3 linked regions of the Homo sapiens genome follow. The protein of the gene in region 1 interacts with the protein of each later gene in a pairwise test. Each region holds a gene or a part of one and is shown on either strand. Other genes may lie near its edges. The genes, in order: DUSP10, PTK7 and ROR2.

Region 1 (3,651 bases):
TTAGGTAGGAAGAAATAGTCTACTGCCCCTTTTTCTTAAAGACAGTATATGCCTTCAAAAATGTTATTATAAACATTTTCAAGCATATAGAAAAGCAGAAAAGTGTGTAATGAACATCCATACACCTATCAACCAGATTAAACAATTATATTTTTCCTATTTGCTTTCTCTTTTCTGTTGAAATATTTAAAAATATAGATAATGTTTTAATGTATTTAAGTATGTTTAATGTGTAAATTAATGTTTCAAATTCAATAAAGCTGGAAATATTTTATAGTATACTATGAACATTTTCACTCGTAAACACTTGAGTGTCATGTACCCATTTTTAAGTGCTTTTCAACTTCGAATCCCTCTGTGACTGACTGGCAGTCAGGTCTACAGAGGAGCTTCCCTCCCTGGGAGTAGGAGGGCTCCAGGTGCCTCCTTGGGGTCTGTGTGTCCCCCTTCCTCCCTGGTATGTCAGAGCCCATGCCTCTACTTGCTCTATGCTGTTGTAAAACAAGGAATGACCAACTGCTACAATCTTTATAGGACTGCTCTGTACCAAAGGCCTTTACTGGGGGAATGTGAGAAGAAGAGGGAAATGGTTTAAAAGGATGATCCATGGGGAGGATTTGATCATGCAGGCAGTTAGGCCTTTATACTATAAAACTTCATCACTCCTTAGAATTGAGCACCATACATTGCACACTTTTCCCTAGTTGAAAAGAATTCTGAAATATACTCTTATTGGCAATAGAGTTCTATGACAAAGTGGATGGCTAGGCTCAGAAATCAGAGACCTGTGAAAAATATTCTGTTTCTGCCCTTTTTTCGGGGGTGGGGTGGGGAAGGGAATAAAAGTCTCCCCTTTTCTCTCAGAGATGTTATGAGGATTTTAAAAAATACCTGAAATAAAGACATATCTACATTCATAAACGTGCTGTTGTTATTCTGAGCCTCTGGTTAACATCCAAGGCTAAAATGTCAAACATTAGCCTTGTAGCAAATGATGGAGAAATCAAGGCAGAACTTCGGATCTAGTCAGCCTGAATGCTAGCCTTGGCTCCCCTCTAACTAGGTATGTGCCCTTGGGGAAGGAACTGAATCCTTCAGTTCCTTAGTTACCTCATTAACAAAAAGAGGATATAACAATAGCTATCTCAAAGTGTTAGTTTCTGAAATAAATGAATTAATGTGTGTAAAGTGTTCAGAACTTTATACACATACATGGTAAGCACTCCATAAATATGGTAGAATGTTTTTATTGATATTGATTGAAAGGAAATGATAGTGCCAGTACAAAGGCAAATTTTGTTCCTAAGGAGTACAAATAACAAGCTAGGTATAGTAGAGTGTGTGTGTTGCTATGGCCTAAAAATAACTTGGTGACTGTTAACTAATTTAAGTTGCATAGAGTTGGAGTGCCAAGTAATTGCAAAAACATATTGGGCCAGGAGGCTGGAGTAATTTGGGTATATCCAGAATTATTTGTTTTAGGGAAATTTGTAAAAACATGATAATAATTCTGTCCAAATAATGTCCCATAACAAAAGCATAAAACTTTTTAGCTTTGCTTTTTGTTGCCTCTCATCATCTCATCAGGAGGATTTATTTTTGGAATAAGGATTGTGGACTGACTATAAAAGGGTAGATGGAAGGAGGGGTGCGCTGGTTCCTGAGCCTAGGGTTGTGTTGAGTTAGAATGTGAAGGAAAAAGGAGGGAAGGAGTTGAATGGCCTGCTCCTGTCTTTCAGGAAGTCCTGAAACTTCTTTCTGAACTGCTGCACAGTTAGTTGGCTGTCCTCTCTCTGAGCTTTTGGGTACACTCTCCTGCTTCCTAATTTAAGTGTAGGTGAACAGATAATAGAAATGAACTCTCTCTCCCAGCCATGTTCTTGCTTTATCTGTTCCTCATTCACGATGTGCTCAGCAGAGTGAAATTTTGCTCACTTACACCTGGGTTCAAATCTAGGCATTTCCATTGACCAACTGTATGCCTTTAGGCAAATCAGGGGGCCTCTCAGAGGCCAGGTTTTCTTCATTGTAAAACAGGGACAGCTCCAGCATCCTAGGTTGAAACAAGGTGATACAAAGTACCTGGCATTTGATGGCTGTCAATAAATCAAGCCTCTGGACCCTGCTCTCCTACTCTCATGCACTAATGTAAGAACCTCTTACATTGCAGGGGCAGGGGTATTGGGGAGGATGGGCAAGTCGTTCTAAGCACAGTACTGTGGGAGCCTGTTAAGTATGAATACTCTTGCCCTTACCAATTCAGAACAGTTAATTAACTTAATCATCCAGCTTGTCATGGACAAGTTCAAGAAACTCCTCTCCTGGCAATAGGAGACATGATTTCACATTAGAAAAGCAAAGCAGGGGAAGGAAACTGAATAGGTAAAGCACTTTGCCTATTTCTGTTTTCAAAGCACGTGTGTATAGGAGAAAGGAGAAGGGAGAATGGTGAATATGTACACTTTTCTACTTGGTCCTTTAGGCAAACCCATCTGAAGGTCTGACAAAATTACAGGAGCAGAAAAACTTTCCGTCACATACTCCTGGTGCATACACCCTCAGGGACTAAGTGGGAGCTTTTGACCAGTAGCAAAAATCTAGTTCCTTAAACCCTGCATTATCAGAAGCCAGAACCTCCAAGCCCCAGCATTGCTGAAGAGCAGTTTGGGCATGAATGTGTGATATATCGGAGTGCTTAGGCAGTTTAATCCAAGTTGGTTGAAAAAGATAGACTACATATTAAGGAGAGAAATTCTAGTTCCAGGAGAGGTCATCTCACCTTTTTGGAACTAAAGAATCCCAGCTTTGAGAAGAGCAAGGAACTTTAGAGGGCCCCTAATCCAGTAGTTTTCACTGCAGGCTGTTCATTGGTATCACCTGAAGGTGATTTATAACCTATGATGCCCAGTTCGTGTGTCCAGAAAGCCTGATTAAATTGGTCTGGGGTGCAGCCTGCACATCAAGATTTTTTTAAAGCTCCCAAAGTGATTCTAACAGGCAGCAAAGTTTGAGAACCATTGATCTAGTCCGGTATTCTCATTATGCCACTACAGGAATGGGGCTTGTCCAAGGTCACATGCATGATTAATTTTAGAGATTTAGTCCTTAATGTTAAAGTAGGTCTTGCCAGGTTCAACAGATTCAATAGATATCAACAGACTGAGGTATTCGTATGTATCATTATTTAATAACAACAGAATCTAATATATAGCATAAAATATAAGATTTTTTGAGTACTGATGCCTTTTTTCTTGAATTTTGAGATTTCAGTTCAGAACTAAAAAGACCAAAGTCTGAGGACTTTCAAAACCAGCAGTTCATGGTCTATATATTTACCTGGATATTAGAATATGGACCAAATATTAATGTTGATTTAATCTCTTCATCTGGGGAACCTAGTGGTTTAAGCTGTTAACCTAGTGGTTTCAGCTGTTAACAGCTATCAAAACAGGTATCAAAGAAGCCCAACCATCTTAGGCTTCTAGGGACTTTTTGGTAGGTGGTCTCCACAGCTGTACAAACTTGTGGGCAGAGGAGATTCATTTGTTTGTTCAATAAATATTGTTGAATGCCTTTGGTGTGCTAGGCACTAATCTGCAGGCTGGGCAATCTGCATCACAATGCTTATCATTCAAATGCAAGAAAGACAAC
Region 2 (3,651 bases), on another chromosome or scaffold:
TTGCTTCCCGAGCTGATCTCCTGTAGTTGGAACACACACCTGCACGTGCACCTGAGCAAGTGTATGCAGGCACACACACCAGTCTGGAGTGTCAGCTTCCTTCTCTCTGCCCTGTTCCTGGTCGATTCCTTACTACATTTCCGACTTTGCAGGAAAGGGGTTCCCTTGCATTCCTTTCCAGAACTAGGCCTATTGGCCACTTTCTCCAAATTGCACTCTCCCCTCTGCAGCCCCCCACACCTCCGCAGAGCCACAGTGTTTGCCAACGGGTCTCTGCTGCTGACCCAGGTCCGGCCACGCAATGCAGGGATCTACCGCTGCATTGGCCAGGGGCAGAGGGGCCCACCCATCATCCTGGAAGCCACACTTCACCTAGCAGGTGAGTCTCTGGGTCTGGGGTGCTGATGTGGGAGGCTGCCTTTAACATTTTTGGCACATAGAGATTTAGGCTTCTGTTTTTACTCAGCCGCTTGGAGGGCAGGGGAAGAAAAGGATGCTGGGAGTAGGAAGAGGATATGCAGAGGGCTGCAGGGGAGGGTTTGTGCTGGGAAAGGGCCTAGGCTTGCTGTGGGAGAACATCATGTACCCTGAGACCCACAATAATTGGGCCATTCCTCCTACTTATGTCCTTGCAGAGATTGAAGACATGCCGCTATTTGAGCCACGGGTGTTTACAGCTGGCAGCGAGGAGCGTGTGACCTGCCTTCCCCCCAAGGGTCTGCCAGAGCCCAGCGTGTGGTGGGAGCACGCGGGAGTCCGGCTGCCCACCCATGGCAGGGTCTACCAGAAGGGCCACGAGCTGGTGTTGGCCAATATTGCTGAAAGTGATGCTGGTGTCTACACCTGCCACGCGGCCAACCTGGCTGGTCAGCGGAGACAGGATGTCAACATCACTGTGGCCAGTGAGCACCTTTGCCCTGAAGGTCAAGGAGAGGTGGAGGGGAACACAGGTCTGGGTGTGATGGACAGAGGCTTCCCTGGTACTCACCTGAGGTCCTCTCAGTTCTGGGCCCTGCAGGCTTGGGAATCAGTTCACTACTGGGAGTCGGTGTAGACAGTAGAGAGCCAGGCACAGGGGTTAGGGTGGGTGCTCCAGAGGAAATAGTGACAGCCCTCACAGAAAAATGGTCCTCTGGGTACAGAGGAAAGAGCAATAGACTAGGAATCTAGAGACCTGGGTCCCACTATGCTCCCAATGCACAGAGTGACGATGGTAGCAAATCACCCACCTTACTGGGGTTCAGTCTCCTCATCCATAAAATGGAGCCAGTAATCTACTACCTACCCCACAAGGTGGTTGGAAAGGTCAAATGAAGTAGATGAAAATGATTTTTCTTTTTTTCTTTTTTGGGAGGTAATAGTGGACAAAATTATAGGTGATTTTTAATTTGTTTTAGTTTGTTATGCTTTCCAAATTTCTTTACTAAACATATTACTTATGAAAAAAAAGAGGGGGAGAAAAGCAAGACATATGACTGAAAGTACACATGATAAACCCTTTATATCAGGCTGGGCGCGGTGGCTCATGCCTGTAATCCCAGCACTTTGGGAGGCCGAGCCGGGCGGATCACAAGGTCAGGAGTTGGAGACCAGCCTGACCAACATGGTGAAACCCCATCTCTACTAAAAATACAAAAATTAGCTGGGCGTGGTGGGGCACACCTGTAATCCCAGCTACTCAGGAGGCTGAGGGAGGAAAATTGCTTGAACCCAGGAGGCAGAGGTTGCAATGAGCTGAGATCGCACCGTTGCTCTTCAGCCCGGGCAACAGAGTGAGACTCCATCTCAAAACAAAACAAAACAAACCTTATATCCTCACTACAGGCATAGGGATTTATTTGTTTACTTATTTCTTTATACCATGCCTTGTTCCAAACCTTTTGTGGTAGTTTAAAAGGATACACAATAAAAATTACAATATGCACACAGAGACACACATACATACAAACTATTTTGCAATCTGCTTCTTCCACTTACCTTTATGTTACTATTATCTTTCCGAGTGGGTAACTTTGCAAAAAGATTTGAATATGAAAGTGGCTTTGTAAATGTGAAGTTGTGATGCTAGTATTCCCATTAGGATACTGAAATCTTAGAAGACATGCACCTATACTCAGGCCGTGATTTGGGTGGGAATCACAGCACATGTGTAACGAGTGCTCAGGACACTCACAGTGCAGGTGCAAAGGCAAGATGCACAGTCAAGCCTTCCTCCAGTTGAGGTCTGAGAATCACCTGCTTTCATTAGGGATACTTTTTCTTCTTTTGTTTGAGACGGAGTCTCACTCTGTCACCCAGGCTGGAGTGTAGTGGTGTGATCTTGGCTCACTGCAACCTGCGCCTCCCAGGTTCAAGTGATTCTCGTGCCTCAGCCTCCCAAGTAGCTGGGTTTAAAGGTGTGTGCCACCACACCTGGCTAATTTTTGTATTTTTAGTAGAGGCGATGTTTTACCATGTTGGCCAGGCTAGTCTCAAACTCTTGACCTCAAGTGATCCACCTGCCTCGGCCTCCTAAAGTGCTGGGATTATGGGTGTGAGCTGCCATGCCCGGCCTCATTAGGGATACTTTTTAAAACACAGGCCAGGCGTGGTGGTTCACACCTATAATCCCAGTGCTTTGGGAGGCCGAGATAGGAAGATCTCTTGAGCCCAGGAGTTTGAGACCAGGCTGGACAAAATAGTGAGACCTTGTGTCTACAGAAATTTAAAAAGTTAGCTGGGCGCGGTGGCTCACGCTTGTAATCCCAGCACTTTGGGAGGCCGAGGTGGGTGGATCACGAGGTCAGGAGTTCGAGATCAGCCTGACCAACATGGTGAAACCCCGTCTCTACTAAAAATACAAAAATTAGCTGGGCATGTTGGCACTCACCTGTAATCCCAGCTACTTGGGAGGCTGGGGCAGGAGAATTGCTTGAATCCAGGAGGCAGAGGTTGCAGTGAGTCGAGATCGTGCCATTGCACTCCAGCCTGGGTGACAGAGCGAGACTTTGTCTCAGGAAAAAAAAAAAAAAAAATTTAGCCAGGTATGGTGATGCACACCTATAATCCCAACTATTTGGGAGGCTGAGGCTGGAGGATCATTTGAGCTCGGGAGCTGGAGGTTCCAGTGAGCTATGATCACACTACTGTACTGGAGCCTGGATGACAGCAAGACCCTGTCTCCAAAAAAATGTCTAAGACATTGCTGGAGCCTTGAAAAAAAGAAAAAAAATGCAGAATTCGGGGCCCCACTCCACAGCTTCCAACCCAGGCTCTAGGGGTGGGACCCAGGTAGATGTGTATTTAACAAGTGCTCTGGGTGATACTTCATGTGTGTTCAAGTTGGGGAACTCTGGCTTTGATCAGTCATTCCACAGATGCTGACTGAGGCTGACACTGAGCCATGCCAGTGTCCCTTGCTGTGCTCTGAGAAGGAGGCCTGTGGCATTTGAGAGTGTGTGATGCAAACAGGGCCAGATCAGGTGCTGGGTGTTAGAGGGTAGAGCCCAGAAGACGGAGAGCTCTGGGAATGCATTCAGTCAACAGAGATTTGTCGAGCACCTTGTGCTAGCTCTTCCCAGTACTGGATGCAACTGTGAACAAAGCAGGCAGAAGCCCCTCTCCTTGTGGAGTTCATATTCTAACAGCGGGGACAAAGCCAGTAAGAAAAAC
Region 3 (3,651 bases), on another chromosome or scaffold:
GCTCCCCACCAGCAGGCCAGCCTGCCCATCACCTGCTCTGATTTGCAGCAGTCACAGAAAAGTCCCTGGTCCCAGGGCCTCACTTAGAAACATCAGAAGCAGAACAAGAAAGAAGGAAAACTCGGCCCCCTAGCTCACTCCGCTAGGTGCTTCTTCCAGGACAAGAGGGTTCAGACTTCAGATGCAAAAGCAGATCCTAAGGACCCGCCATGTGTGGAGAGCGCAGGCCAAGAAGTGCAGTACCGAGCCCCAGGCTTCCCAATGTCCCAGATCTGTCTGGGGAGAAGGCTGTCCCGGAAGAGGGAGTCAGCTCAGCTCTGTGAACTGCAGCTGGAGGAGACAGTTGGTAAAATGCGGAAAGCCAAGAGGGTGAGAGCAGCAAAGTGGGAGGAGAGCCGCGTTACAACTCTGGAAGGTTCTGTGATAAGGGGGAGCAGAAAAACCCGAAGATCCAGAGCCCCCTTTGGTAGGGCGGTTTGTTTTTTAAGGGCAAGATGTCAGAGGATGCAGTTTGGTGGTTAGAAGATGGGGTGAGTTCGGGAACAAAGTGGGGGTGTTGGGGAGAGATCTGCTGCACCTGGGGTGCATGGCTGGACACTGGTAAGGGTGAAGAAGCTGGCCAAGGCAGGGCTCTAAGGAATGCATCAGCCTGCCCTGGGCTCACTACCCCATTTTCACCTGTGAAAGGCTGGCTTACAACAATTGAGCTTGGGGACAGTGGAGGCAGACAGGCCCCTTTGCCTGCACACCCAGCAGAGGCTGTGTCCTCCAGCGTGGCAGAAAACCCAGAAGCTGGCATTTAGTCCCTGAGGAGCCCTAACTCCACCCACGAATGCAGTTCAATCCCATCATTACAGATTTGGCGATTATTTGGTGATTATACAGAGGGCTGTCAAGAATGCTGGCCTTGACCTCCAGGCAAGGAAAGCGTGTAAGTGCTGTGCCAGGTTTGGCCAGCAGGTGGCAGTGCCGCTGTCAGTCATTCCCTGGGAACCCACCCAGGAACGGGATGGGCAGCTGTGTGGGAACAGCCTTGTGCGTGATCACTTTGTGGTATCACTCATGCCTTTCCGGGCCTGTTTCTGTACCTGAAGAGTGATTTGAGACCCCACACTGGGGAATGAGAGTGCACACAGAGCCTATAAAGTGGCCCTCAGCGTGAATGGGCCCAGGGGTCTGGTAAAAGGCGGCGTCAGTGGGCGGGAGCAGCCACGCTGTCCTGATTGTGTGCAGGCACTACTGTGCTCATCACATCACCTCCCCTCCTCTGGGTTCCTGTGGCCGATATTTAAATGGAGGAACAGAGAGGGCAAGCAGTTACAGTACAGGATGTCTTGGATTTGGAGGAAGAACTGAGGCTTCAACCCTGTTCAATCCCATCATTACAGATTTGGGATTATATGGATGGCTGTCAAAAATGTAGGTAGGCCTTGACCTCCAGGCAGGGAAAGATTGTCTAAGAATGCCAAAGCTGTCACTTCTCTTGGGCTAATCCACTGATAGGATGTCTCTGCTGATCTTTATAGGATTTCTCTTTCTCCTTCTCCTCACCCTGAGAATGTACTGCTTATTTCTGAAAGTGCAATTCTAGGCACAAAGAGATCCAACAACTCACATCCTGTTATCTGTCCACACCCTGAATGTCACACAACACTTTCCAACACAACACTGCACACAACGCAGTCATTACTATGCTTATTTCAAAACCACAAGTCTGTTGAGAGCAACTTCAAATTTACTGTTTTCAAAAAGCCACCCACCTAGAAAATCTTCATTCTAAACTCTTCTCTAAAAGATGCTATAAAACCAGGCTGCTTGGATGCAAGCTGATTCCTTAAACAACTCCTGAAGAGATAACTGAGGGACAATCTTGTGCCCTGGATCAGTGCTTGCCAATTAGTAGGGTGTCTAATTAATTCTGAGAGTCTGCAGCTAGCATTTTAAAAGATGGTAAGAACAGACTAGAGGATGTCAGAATGCACGGTTCCTACTAAGGGCTCTAACTTTTTTTTTTTTTTTTTTTTTTTTTTTTTTTTTTTTTGAGACAGAGTCTTGCTCTGTCTCTGGGGCTGGAGTGCAGTGGCGCGATCTGCAACTTCCACCTCTCGGGTTTAAGTGATTCTTCTGCCTCAGCCTCCCAAGTAGCTGGGATTACAGGCACCCGCCACCATGCCCAGCTAATTTTTTGTGTTTTTAGTAGAGATGGGGTTTCACCATGTTGGTCAGGCTGGTCTTGAACTCCTGACCTCGTGATTTGCCCGCCTCAGCCTCCGAAAGTGCTAGGATTACAGGCGTGAGCCACCGTGCCCGGCCACTTTTTTATTTAATGAAATAAAACTGAAAAGAAAAATCCAAGTGCACCGCTTTTACGAAGGGTGAAAGTTATTCCCTGTAACCTATGTCAGTTGTGTGAAATACATGTATGTGTACACTAAGTCATGGCGTAAAGTATATTCTCTATTTTCCACTGTGTGTTTCGGTAAAAACCTTTGAGAAGTCCTACTTTAATGGCAAAGAAAGCTTTTGCAGTGAGAGGTAGCCATATTTTCAAAACCATCTCCCGCTGGAACAGGATGGCATCTCCAGGTTCCTCTCTGTCTCATGATGGCTCTTTCAGTTTGCACAGGACCCCCTGGCCCTGTCCTCAGAGGTCTCTGTACCAGCACATGGGCCAGGCAGTCTCTTCTGTGACCGTGAATGTGATGTTCGACTCTCTAGTCCGAGGGTGACCTGAACTTAGAAGGGCTTGTCAGTGACATGAGGTGACTTTCTGCCTTGGATCCTCATTGTCACCCCTTAACAGGTCAGTGCCCTGTATCCCCTTTGCCCCACCACACTCTCCCAGGAGCGCAGGCATCAGAGATCACCCACTGACTCTAATCTGCAGCAGAGCCTCCCGCTCCCATGGAGAGGATCCAACTAAACTGAGGTGCTGGGGCACCGGCCATCTGCACAGGATGTGTCTTGCTCCTTATGGGATCTGGAGAGAAAATGTGTATGTGTTTGTGGAGAGAGTAGAGACAGCAGGAGGAGGGCTCTGTAGGACTATTGTCTAATTAATTTTCTTCCTTTCCAAGGCCTTTCCCCTAAGAAGGACCCCGGACCCCATCAATGTGTTCGAGTTGTATGCTGGGAACTGGGACAGCCAATCAGAGAAGTTAAGTCCTAATGAGACCAAGGATGAGCAGCTGCAGTTCCTAATTGACTTGCCACTTTCTCAGACCCTGAACCAGGTACCCAAAGACGTGGCTTTGTTCTCTGGAAACCCAGGACTGACAAAGTGTGTGTTCACTGCAGCATCCCTACCACTGATGACCCGCGACTCTTTCCCCAAAACAGCTGCAATCAGGCCTGGGTGCCTTTGGACCAAACGTGGCTCAGAGAGGATAGAAGAGTCAGGAAGTACAGAATGAGAAGTCAAGCAGAGTGAGTGTGGGGGCGCTGAGGCTATCTGCGCCAGTGTGGCAGGCCCGGGGCAGGAGGCCCTGGCGTTGCAGTGAGGACAGTGCTTTGGACCCACACGGTTTGGCTGAGTTAAAAGTGCAGAAGTATATTCCAAGCAACCCACACTTGCTAATTTAAACATACAGGCCAGGAACATTTTTAGGGCAAATCATGTTAGCAATTGCCACTACTTCTAAAAAAGATCTC

Evidence for each region.
Region 2: the proteins of DUSP10 (region 1) and PTK7 interact in a two-hybrid assay, tested with the Homo sapiens proteins (one study listed by BioGRID and IntAct).
Region 3: the proteins of DUSP10 (region 1) and ROR2 interact in a two-hybrid assay, tested with the Homo sapiens proteins (one study listed by BioGRID and IntAct).

The regions. Positions count from the first base shown.
Region 1 is NC_000001.11:221,732,090-221,735,740, reverse strand, and holds part of DUSP10 (dual specificity protein phosphatase 10), read left to right. Parts: exon of another isoform or gene 1-306; intron 307-3,651. UniProt on the Homo sapiens protein: Protein phosphatase involved in the inactivation of MAP kinases. Has a specificity for the MAPK11/MAPK12/MAPK13/MAPK14 subfamily. It preferably dephosphorylates p38.
Region 2 is NC_000006.12:43,131,786-43,135,436, forward strand, and holds part of PTK7 (inactive tyrosine-protein kinase 7 isoform a precursor), read left to right. Parts: intron 1-230; coding exon 231-379; intron 380-635; coding exon 636-902; intron 903-3,651. UniProt on the Homo sapiens protein: Inactive tyrosine kinase involved in Wnt signaling pathway. Component of both the non-canonical (also known as the Wnt/planar cell polarity signaling) and the canonical Wnt signaling pathway.
Region 3 is NC_000009.12:91,733,603-91,737,253, forward strand, and holds part of ROR2 (tyrosine-protein kinase transmembrane receptor ROR2 isoform 1 precursor), read right to left. Parts: intron 1-3,651. UniProt on the Homo sapiens protein: Tyrosine-protein kinase receptor which may be involved in the early formation of the chondrocytes. It seems to be required for cartilage and growth plate development. Phosphorylates YWHAB, leading to induction of osteogenesis and bone formation.